3 linked regions of the Homo sapiens genome follow. The protein of the gene in region 3 purifies or fractionates together with the protein of the main gene of each other region. This does not show direct contact. Each region holds a gene or a part of one and is shown on either strand. Other genes may lie near its edges. The genes, in order: TARBP1, MACIR and SLA2.

Region 1 (3,752 bases), on a different chromosome or scaffold from region 3:
CCACACCCTTGGTCTTTGCCGTTTAGTGTTTTCGAGCTTTTACATGTTAGCCATTCTCATCAGTATGAAGTGGTACCTCATTGTGGGTTTAATTTGCATTTCTCTGATGACTAATGATGTTGAACACTTTTCCAAGTGCTTATCATTTGTGTATCTTCGTTTGTTAAGTGCTCAAGACATTTACCCATTTATATTTGTTAGATATATGTTGACAGAAACAATAGTTTTCTGCACATTTTATGTTGAAGGTAATTGATATTTACTGACATGTTAAAAGGGCTTAAAATAGAAACATTTATGCATTTTGTCAATGAAAAACGGAATGACTGAAATATGAAAAAAGTCTTGCCTGTGTAATGTCAGATAACCTTAAAGTCAGATAACTTTATATAAAAATAACTGTAAATTTAAATAACTAATTTTTGTCTTATCCATTATGTTATTATATGTCAAGCTCTTTGAAGTTGGGACCCTGTTTTCTCTATTGACTAAGAGGCAGATCTTTGTGTTTAGTAGCGAAGAAAACCCTATGTCACTGATCTAGTTTGTCTCAAATTGAGCCAGGAACCAAATCCACACCATGCATGCCGAGGTGAGGTTTTCTGTTTCTCTATTTAGCAATGGATGCTGTCAGAAATACAGAAAAGACAGACACAGGGACTATTTTTGAGTTTGCACATGGGAGCACATGCATTGTGCAGGAGGCTCTGCATCCTGGAGTCATCTTGGGCACTTGGCTGTGAGGGCTGGCGTGGGCATCTTGGTTTTAGCTGAATCCTAGCACATTGCTATAGGTACCTCTAAGGCAGGAGAATAGGGCCTGGAGGCAGGGAATCCAAAAACTCCCTAGAACCAAATCAGATAGAAACACTTCAGCTATGACAGGAAATATCCTCTTCATTTACATAGGGAGTACACCAAGTAAATAACTTTGTAACTTCATTTTATCCTCTTCAGTTACATAGTGTGTACACCAAGTAACCAATTGAAACCTCTATAGGTATTTAAACCCCAGAAAATTCTGTAACCAGCCCCCCTTGAGCGGCTTGCTTGGGTCTGCCCCCACCCTGTGGAGTGTACTTTTGCAATAAATCTCTGCTTTTGTGGCTTCATTCTGTCTTTGCTTTGTTTGTGCGCTTTGTCCAATTCTTGGACCTGGACACCCTCCACCGGTAACACTTCTCACTCCTGGCCTTACGTCTAAATCATTCTTGTGTTTTCATGACTTATTTTTAATGCAGATGTCCAGAACCAATTTCAGACCTACTGTGTCAGTCTCTTTGTGGATGGTGCCCATCATGCAACGTTTGGAAAATAATCTAAAGTGATTCTGCTGTGCACCTTCTGTGAACTGGTTTATGCTCACAGGCACGCCTGATTTAGGGTCCTGGGCAGACCAACCTCCAATCAGGAATCGATGAAGCTGGTGTAGATACTACATTAACTTTTAACGAAGGCCTCGTTTCTCCTAAAAATAAGAGACCAGGTGGGTTCTATCTAGGCAGGGTTGGTGGCAGGAACCCAAGGGAAGCTGAGCTGCACCAAGCCGGGCTGGGATCCCCCTCTCTGCGGCCGCGCGCCCGGCTCCGTCGGCGCACGCGCACGTAGGGGCCGGCCGGTCCTGTGCGCACGCATCGCACACGCCGGCGCCTTCCTTTGGGAGCCCGGGCCGGTGGCGCGGGCGCTCGGCAAATGGAGTGGGTGCTCGCGGAAGCGCTGCTCTCGCAGAGCCGGGACCCCCGGGCCCTGCTTGGGGCGCTGTGCCAAGGGGAGGCATCCGCGGAGCGCGTGGAGACGCTGCGCTTCCTTCTGCAGCGGCTCGAGGACGAGGAGGCGCGCGGCAGCGGGGGCGCAGGCGCGCTCCCGGAGGCGGCGCGCGAGGTGGCTGCAGGGTACCTCGTGCCACTGCTGCGGAGCCTGCGCGGACGCCCCGCGGGCGGCCCGGACCCCAGTCTGCAGCCTCGCCACCGCCGGCGCGTGCTGAGGGCGGCGGGCGCGGCCCTGCGCTCGTGCGTCCGCCTGGCCGGGCGTCCGCAGCTGGCGGCCGCGCTGGCTGAGGAGGCGCTGCGCGATCTGCTCGCCGGGTGGCGCGCGCCTGGCGCCGAGGCTGCCGTGGAAGTGCTAGCAGCCGTCGGGCCATGTTTGCGGCCCCGCGAGGACGGGCCGCTACTGGAGCGCGTGGCGGGGACCGCCGTCGCCCTGGCGCTGGGCGGGGGCGGGGACGGGGATGAGGCCGGGCCTGCCGAGGACGCGGCGGCGCTGGTGGCCGGGCGACTGCTGCCAGTGCTGGTCCAATGTGGCGGGGCGGCGCTGCGGGCCGTGTGGGGCGGGCTGGCCGCGCCTGGGGCGTCCCTGGGGTCCGGCCGCGTAGAGGAGAAGCTGCTGGTCCTGAGCGCCCTGGCCGAGAAGCTGTTGCCCGAGCCCGGCGGCGACCGCGCCCGCGGCGCGCGCGAGGCGGGCCCGGACGCCCGGCGCTGCTGGCGCTTCTGGAGGACGGTGCAGGCGGGGCTGGGCCAGGCGGACGCCCTGACGCGCAAGCGAGCGCGCTACCTGCTGCAGAGGGCGGTGGAGGTGTCGGCGGAGCTGGGGGCCGACTGCACCTGCGGGCCCCAGGAAGGAAACGGTACCTGCCTCTTTGCCCCCCAGCCTAGTGCTACCTACTTGGCTGCCCCAGAGGGGAGTCTTCCTGCTTCTAAAAACTAGCTTATCGGGGTCGTCACTCCGATCCATGCAGAATTTGGTTATTCCGCGTTGCTCCCCTAAAGCCTGAAAACCTTTGGAACCCCTTCTCGAGGGTGTTCTTTGAAGTCACAAATCACTGCGGTTGGGAACGTTCTAACCCAGAGCCGGTGGAATACAGCACCCCTGGAATAGTTTAGGAAGATAATGGAGCCCGTGCAAGATTTTACAGACCCAAATCTGCACTATATCATGGTAGATTCAACCCAATAGAAACGGTTGATATCTATCAAGTTGAAAGAAAAATTATTTGTTATTTATCTGTACTGACCAGTGAATTAGTGAATTGAGTGTTGAGTGTTAGAATTAAGCGTCATAGAGGCCATCACACTCTTCTGAAATTTCCCCTGGTAATTAGGAACAGGATTTACTAATATTTGTTAAACATGTTTCTTAAGTCGACCTTTTGAGTGTATTTTTGCCATTGATTTAATAGAATGAATCAGATTTTATTTTTTAACTGTTTGAGCTTTGCTCCCTACTATGTGCAAGAGTAATGAAACAGCAAGGCCTCCCTTCAAGTTGTTACGTTACTGTTGATTGGTTTGACTTCACTCATGTTAAATTTGGGTTTAAACTGTCAAGTACAAAGTAGATTGACTCAAAATTGTCTCAATAGAATATTTCTACTTTTTCAACGGTAGCTGACCATTTATTACAGGTAAAGGATTTTTGTTTGGCTGAAGTTATGAGGTTATATTTTCAAGTAATTTTAAAACATTAGAGAGTAAATATTTGAACAGTCCACAGATAGGTGTGATCATCCCTGAGAGTTTTCACTGGAAAACATTTTTTAAATCATCAAAAATTAAAACATTCATTTATTTACATGAGTCTGTTATTTTGCAGTTTTGTTTGTTTGTTTGTTTGTTTTATGGAGTTTCGGTCTTGTTGCCCAGGCTGGAATGCAATGGCACAATCTCCGCTCACCGCAACCTGCACTTCCCGGGTTCAAGCGGTTCTCCTGCCTCAGCCTCCAGAGTAGCTGGGATTACAGGCATGCGCCACCATGC
Region 2 (3,550 bases), on a different chromosome or scaffold from region 3:
AAAGAAGCTCACCTCAGATTGAGGCAAGGAATGAAATTTTACTGCAACTTTATGCATCATCTGAGCTTCAAACAAACGGTACTTTTGCAAAAGAAGAAAAAAATTAAAGTTATATAGTGCTGCAATGTTTAAGGGCAAGAACAGTAAGATAATATCATCAGGTATATTCTGGCCAAGTGTGCCCCATTTAGTGTGGAATATTAAATTGAATAAAAAATGAAAAAGTTAAAAAATAGAAACCATGTCAAAAGGGATTGTTTTTCAACTAAAAGAGATCCAGCCTACCCTTTTTTTAAAAAAATTGGTTCTTACCTACCATAGGCTACAATTCCATGGGGTGCAGAGAAAGTAAGACTGAACTAATAAAGGGGTTCTGCAAACACATTGTGAAAATTACTGGCCTAGAGTTTTGAAACTTTCTTTCTAGAAAACCAAATTTAAAATTATATATCTTTACTAATCAAAAAAGAGTAAGTATGCCATATCTTATACTATTAACCCCCCTATTTTTGCCACAGAGTTTCACCTGTCTTTCAGGAAAAAACAAAACAAAACAAAAAAAGCTACAAATTTTTATTTAGCTATTATTAAGGAACGTAGGCACACGGACAGAACAGGTCTCATAGGTAACCAGTTGTGTTTCCTAATAGGGTGAATACATATCATTGCCATGAATACATCTTTTATCATAAAATGCCAATGAGCATCAAAAGTAAATGGTTTGATTGTTGTTGTCACTGTTTTGTTTAAGAAAAATAGGGCCTTAAAATAAGTGCTTCAGTGGAATTCTTGAACAGTAAGTAGCCTGTTGATAGTGGACCTAGTTTAAAGCACCACACAACAATGTGTGTTTACATCACCCCTTTATTTCATAGTTAGAAATAATACAGTTCCACAGGGTAAATTGTCAATAAATAATGGTGTTTAATCATTAAACATAAAAATCCCACTCTTTGGCATCTGACAGGATTCTATTTCTTGTCAAACTAATGACTGTATAGATATAGCTAATCTTAGTGATCATTCGTCAATACAATATGTTACAAAGGTGCAATTTACTTTAAAATATACAACAGCGAAACATTTCCAGCCCAACGAGAAATCTGATCAACTTAGTAAGATATGGGCCAACTTCCCCAAGGCTCTTTCACGTAGTTTGCCTTAATGAAAGTGTAATAAACGTTGATTAAGAGTTCCTAGGGTTTTCTAATACTTACTTTGCTCTAAATAGAGTTTGCCATTCATTCTGGCTAAAGAAAAATCACAATTGCACCAGGAATGACCCACTCATTAATTAAAAGGTGTTCTTATTTTATAAGCAAGATTGCTAATACCTAAGAAACTCACAGACCCCAAAATAAAAAGCAGTTCTGTGCTGCCAGAAATCCCAATTCAGTAATAAATTGCACCTTTAAGAGTCAAAAATGAGGGAAAAAAGAAATGGAACGTTTACAAAAGGTAAGTTACATACATTTTTTTTTCAAAATATATTCAAGAATAGTTGAGCTGTATTTGTTACTAAACCCAGGGCATTATTTCTTTAGCAACAAATTAAACCAGTGCAATTGACATAAATTGTTAAGTAATCCAGGATTAACCCATTAAAACAGTAGAAGCACGTTAGGCTCCTACACTAATCCTAGAAACTGGAATTTCAGTGAGTGCTTGTGTTACACAGAACTAAAACTGCAATGACCTGATGCCATGCTGAATGGTATCACTTCATACTTAGTTTAATCATTCAATAGTACAAATCATGAGTTCCTCTATTAAACTATTATTCACTTACAGAAAATTCAGATGCAAACAGTATTATGCCTATAATCCACAATTAAAAGAATCCTTTCCCATTTAAAGTTCCAGGTGAATTTTAAGTTAGAAAATAAGCACTAAGGAGAGTTTTTTCAACTTATGAAAACGTCATATTGGAAACTTTCTGGAAAAGTTTCCCCCGCCCACCCATTGTAAAATAAATACTTTGTATCCCAAATTTAATTTTATTAAGACACACTTTAATAACGCTATAAAGAAATATTTTACAGCCATAGAGATCAATAACTTTCCATGCGGAAATAAAAAATTCATTGCTCAATAACATTATTGAGGCAAGTGAAGAAAGATTACTCTCTTGTCAATCTGAAATGTTAATTTTTTCAGTGCAAAACCAGTTATAAAATATTTAAACTCAATATTTAAAAATAAAAAGTGGTCCAATTCAGCAATGTTCAAGTTCTAAATTTCATAAAACAAATCATTACATACATTTTATAGTAAAATACAGAGATTCAAGAAGTACTTGAGTACTGAAGATATAAATTTCTAATGAATCATATCAAGTCAGCAACAACCAAGCAGGTAACATTCCCAATTTGAGTGTCAGAATCATAAAGATGAAATTACTGTACCAAAGCCTTTTTTTCCTAGCTAAAAAGCTATACAAACTAACAGTCAACATTCTGTTTTCTTTGCAGTTGCGTGCTCTAGAATGATATCCCCCCCCCAAGTACCTGTGATTTCATTCCTGTATTCAAATTTGACCCAAACAATTTTTATGTTCCAGGAACACTTAGCTGATATAACCATCTATAGTGTGAAGAGTCATGTACAGAGTACAGCAGTGGGTTTTTTCTAGCCAAGCGTAGGCTGACCTAAATTGGTTTAAGCTCTCTCCAAGTCATTCATGTATTATTCCTAGCAAACACACGGTCCCCTCGGAGGGTTAGGTGTTGAAGCTGGTACTGTAGCACTTCTGTATCAGCTGGCTCCTTGATCATTTTATCTAGATTGAGGTAGTCCAGAGATTTGGAGTGAGCCCTCTTACCTTTAAGAAGACAAAGAGGCAGAGGCCCATGGAGGGCCTTGTAAGGTTCATAAGGTAAAGATTTAGTGCACTTGTCTCCTGAGCTTGGCATCCGCCTTCGCCTCCTGCCATTGACAGCTGGAATCTCGTATGGCTGGTAGTACCTACTTCTGGTTTTATACAAACGAGAGGAACGGGCAAGTCCTGCATCTAGCTGTTTGGAGCGTAAGGATGGCATGGCTTCTGCTTTGCTCTCTTCACCTCCTGTGCACTTCTGAGCTAACTTCAGGAGTTCCTCGCCAGTCGTGAAGCCAACCAAATAGTTAGAGTCCATGTGTAGGATCTGGTAGCCTGACACGGTCCTCCGCATCGGGGAGCAGGGTGTGCTGGAGCAGCGGGGCTTCTCTGCCTCCGCCTTTCCCGGGGAGTTGGCCTCAGCCCCAGGGAAGGGCAAGGTGGTCAGGGTACTTCTAGACTCTCCATTAATATCGACTTCCATTTTAAGCACCAGTCTGCACAATCCTAAAAGTAAACAGACTTAGATTAGAAGAATATAATGCACAGAGACTTGGGCCAGGCCAGGTCCTTTTAGAAGGCTCAGGGAGCATGAAGTAACACTTGCCTGAAAGACAGTCAATGTACCACTGACATGTAACTATGTCTACTAAACGTTTCAGAGCGGGCATGAAATGACAATACCTCTCTGCCTTTAAGAACTGAAAGGCAAGTTAAATTAAAGTCTGATGTACT
Region 3 (3,652 bases):
CTAGCCTTAGCCTCCTGAGTAGCTGGGATTACAGGCACCTGCCACCATGCCCGGCTAATTTTTTTGTATTTTTAGTACAGATGGGGTTTCGCCATGTTGGCCAAGCTGGTCTCAAACTCCTGACCTCAGGTGAGGCCTTATGTGGATCTTATGAGTCTTTAAAGATCTTCATGGATCCCGCTGGGCGCGGTGGCTCATGCCTGTATCCTAGCACTTTGGGAGGCCAAGGTGGGCGGATTATCTGAGGGTCAGGAGTTTGAGACCAGCCTGGCCAACATGGCAAAACCCCGTTTCTACTAAAAATACAAAAAAAAAAAAATAGTCCGGTGCAGTGCCTTACTCCTGTAATCCCAGCACTTTGGGAGGCCGAGGTGGGTGGATCATCTGAGGTCAGGAGTTTGAGATCAGCCTGGCCAACATGATGAAACCCTGTCTCTACTAAAAACACAAAAATTAGTTGGGCATGGTGGCATGTGCCTGTCATCCCAGCTACTCAGGAGGTTGAAGCAGGAGACTCGCTTGAACCCAGGACGTGGAGGTTGCAGTGAACCGAGATCGCACCACTGCACTCCAGCATAGGCAACAGAGTGAGACTCTGTCTCAAAAAAGTATAATAATTATCCCGGTGTGGTAGCACTCGCCTGTAATCCCAGCTACCAGGGAGGCTGAGGCATGACAATCACTTGAACCCAGGAGGCAGAGGCTGCACTGAGCCAAAATGTGCCACTTCACGCCAGCCTGGGCGACACAGTGAGACTCTGTCTCAAAAAAAAAAAAAAAGTCTCCATACGGCTTTCTCTTCTCACTCACAGAGTTTTCTCTTTGCATCTGTGTCTTTTTAGGTAAGGGGCAGAGTGGCCATAAGGGCCAGCCACTATATTCTTGGGGCTGACCCAGGCCAGAGAATGGGCCAGGGGAGGGGAGCTGAGCACTGAGCACTTCCTGTGGCTTCTGAAGCTCCAGGGGACAGTCTGCAGTGGGGCCCTGCTCCACTCCGCAACGCTGCTGTGGTTTCCTGTTTGCAGCTGCTGTGCTGGGCTGGCCTCCCCAGCCCCTCTACCAGCCTATGGATGTATGTGAGGTGGGGGTGCTGATGCTGCCTAGAAAATAGCAGGAGGGGCCTCAGAGAGGTCAACCCAAGAACGCCCAAGGGCAGGAGAGGAGAGACAAAGAAGCTGGAAAGGGTCCTGGGAGGGAGACTGAGGCAGAGAACGAAGGGTCCCGACAGCCTATCACAGTTGGTTCATATCAAGGCGGGCGCCAGGAGGTCTGTCCATTCCTGATACCTCCTTCCCTGGTCTGTTGCTATGCTTGCAGTGCCAACATTACTGCCCCACGTGGGCCTTTCTTGGGGGCCTGGAGTGAGAGGAGGTGTGGCTGGGTTTGAATCCTGGCTCTGCACTTACTAGCTGTGTTTCCCCAGGCAAATTATTTCTCTTCCCTAAGCCTCAGTTTTTCCATCTGTAAAATGAAGACAATGGAAGTACAATCCCCATACATTGTTTTAAGTCACTTAAAGGGCTTAACATAAACGTGGGGGCTGCTGCTCCTTCAACATCCCTCTTTGCCTCTGCCTTAAAGGACTCAGGGGCAGCAGCTCAGAGGGAGGCAGGGTCATCAAAGAGACAATCAACTTTGTGTTTTGATTGCAAAAGACCCTGCACCTGGGGTGGGAGAAGCCCCACATGAATGTGCATGTGGCCCGTTCCTACTCCTCTTTGGTCCAGTTTTTCAGTCTGTACAGTGGAGCGAGGAGGATCCATGAGATGACTTCCAGTGGGTTTCTAGCTCTGACTGGCTACTGACCCAAGAGATCCTGTCACCATTTTAATGTTTTGCCAAGAGATCAGAATCATGTTGTGTCTTGGGGAAGGAGGAATCACCTCCTAGTCAACGCAGAGAAATTCTGTGACTATACTCTATTAAAAATCCTAGTTGCCAATGTGTTGGCTGAGCCTAGATCCCTACTGTGGGCCATTCACATTCACTTTTATTTTTTGAAATGGAGTCTGGCTCTGTTGCCCAGGCTGGAGTGCAGTGGTGCAATCATGGCTCACTGCACCCTGGAACTCCTGGACTTAAGTGATCCTCCCACTTCAGCCTCCGAAGTAGCTCGGACTACAGGGATGCACCACCATGCCTCACTACATTTTAAATTTTTTTGTAGAGAAGTGGTCTCATTATGTTGGCTAGGCTGGTCTCAAATTTCTGGGCACAAGTGATTCTCCCACCTCAGCCTCCCAAAGTGCTGGGATTACAGGTGTGAGCCACAGTGCCCGGCCTGTATTATTTTTAGAAATGCAGATTTTTGCTCTATTGCTGATAGGCTCTCATGGCAGCAACATGGCAGATGACAGCCAGACTGCTAGACACCAAGGCTAGGAACTCCAGCCCTTCACATTTGGCCTTCTGCCCCACCCTCAAGTCATATCACACTTGGCTCTTGGCATTGGAGGGGCAAGCCCTGGCATCACTGTGGATCTCAAATAGAGGTATGTTTCCCAAACTCTGTGCCATGGAACACTGGCTTCCAGTGACCCAGGAGCTCCCTGAGAGCAGGGACCATGGCCACCTCACTCAGCAGAGATGCCTAAGGCCTGACACATACAGTAGGTCCTGTCCTTCCCTGAAGCCTCCCCACATCATAGGTGCTGGAGAAGCATTTGCTGAATGAATGAACATGGAGTGACTCTGACTGGTGCTGCATGATGAAACACTCCTGTGTCAGAAACACTTGGGAAATGCCCAGTTAGGCAAACGCGACGCCTTAAGAAGTCTTGTGTTAACACGGATTGTGAACCTCTCAGAGAAGGATACGATTTTCGGGGTCCCCTAAACTGACCCCCCATCTCCTCTACTTCTAAGCAGGTGGCCCACAGAACACACTCAGAGAGTCCCTGTAATGCATCCTCTCGTTTCCCCCAAAACACACGCCCAGCACTGTGTCTCTGCTGAGTAGCAACCCCACTGCCTTGGGAGAAAACCAAAGCTTCTCAGCTCGGCATCCAAGGCCTCTGTGCTGGAGCTTGCTCACTTCTAACCTCCTATTGTCCCGAGGTGCAGCCCACTGGCCCACCCCAGCACCACTGTGTCTTGTTGCCTGGGATCCTGTGGGAACATCCCTCAGGATCCCAGGTCCACTCCTCCAGGTCCACTCATGGTCTATTCCTCCATGAAGCCTCCCTTGATTGCTCCAAAGTTAGCTGCCTCTCCTCTGCTTTCATGGCCTGTCTCCATCTCCCCCAGCCTGGGCTCCACATGGTTCATATGGGCAGGACACGGAGCTGGGGCTCAGGAAATCTTGGTTGACTGAGAAGTCAGGCAAAGCCTATTTTCTGGGCCGCACCTGCAGCCATATATCTGTGGGCTCCTTTCTGAGACCTCCACGTAGGGAGGGCCTGGGCTGGCACCGAGCTTACTCACCTCTCCTGGTCTGGCTCTCCCGGATGAGGAAGGCCCCTCCAGGGTTCCCAGGTAACAACAGCAGTTCCTCTGCTTTCTCCCTGCTCAGGCCCTCATACAGCCACCTGGCGGAGCGAAAGAGAGGGACAAGGGACAGGGTCAGCCTGGAGGAAGAGGGAAGCCAAGATTTTACCACCACCGCTGAGTGACCCTCACAAGGCCCTCCCTCTCTGGGCCTCAGAGTTCTATC

What was found.
Region 1: the proteins of SLA2 (region 3) and TARBP1 purify together in Homo sapiens (affinity purification with mass spectrometry; one large-scale study listed by BioGRID and IntAct). This does not show direct contact.
Region 2: the proteins of SLA2 (region 3) and MACIR purify together in Homo sapiens (affinity purification with mass spectrometry; one large-scale study listed by BioGRID and IntAct). This does not show direct contact.

Annotation. Positions count from the first base shown.
Region 1 is NC_000001.11:234,477,044-234,480,795, reverse strand, and holds the start of TARBP1 (tRNA (guanosine(18)-2'-O)-methyltransferase TARBP1), read left to right. Parts: upstream 1-1,616; 5' UTR 1,617-1,692; coding exon 1,693-2,623; intron 2,624-3,752.
Region 2 is NC_000005.10:103,275,669-103,279,218, reverse strand, and holds the end of MACIR (macrophage immunometabolism regulator), read right to left. Parts: intron 3,323-3,550; 5' UTR 3,300-3,322; coding exon 2,679-3,299; 3' UTR 559-2,678; downstream 1-558. UniProt on the Homo sapiens protein: Regulates the macrophage function, by enhancing the resolution of inflammation and wound repair functions mediated by M2 macrophages. The regulation of macrophage function is, due at least in part, to its ability to inhibit glycolysis.
Region 3 is NC_000020.11:36,629,172-36,632,823, forward strand, and holds part of SLA2 (src-like-adapter 2), read right to left. Parts: intron 3,528-3,652; coding exon 3,424-3,527; intron 1-3,423. UniProt on the Homo sapiens protein: Adapter protein, which negatively regulates T-cell receptor (TCR) signaling. Inhibits T-cell antigen-receptor induced activation of nuclear factor of activated T-cells.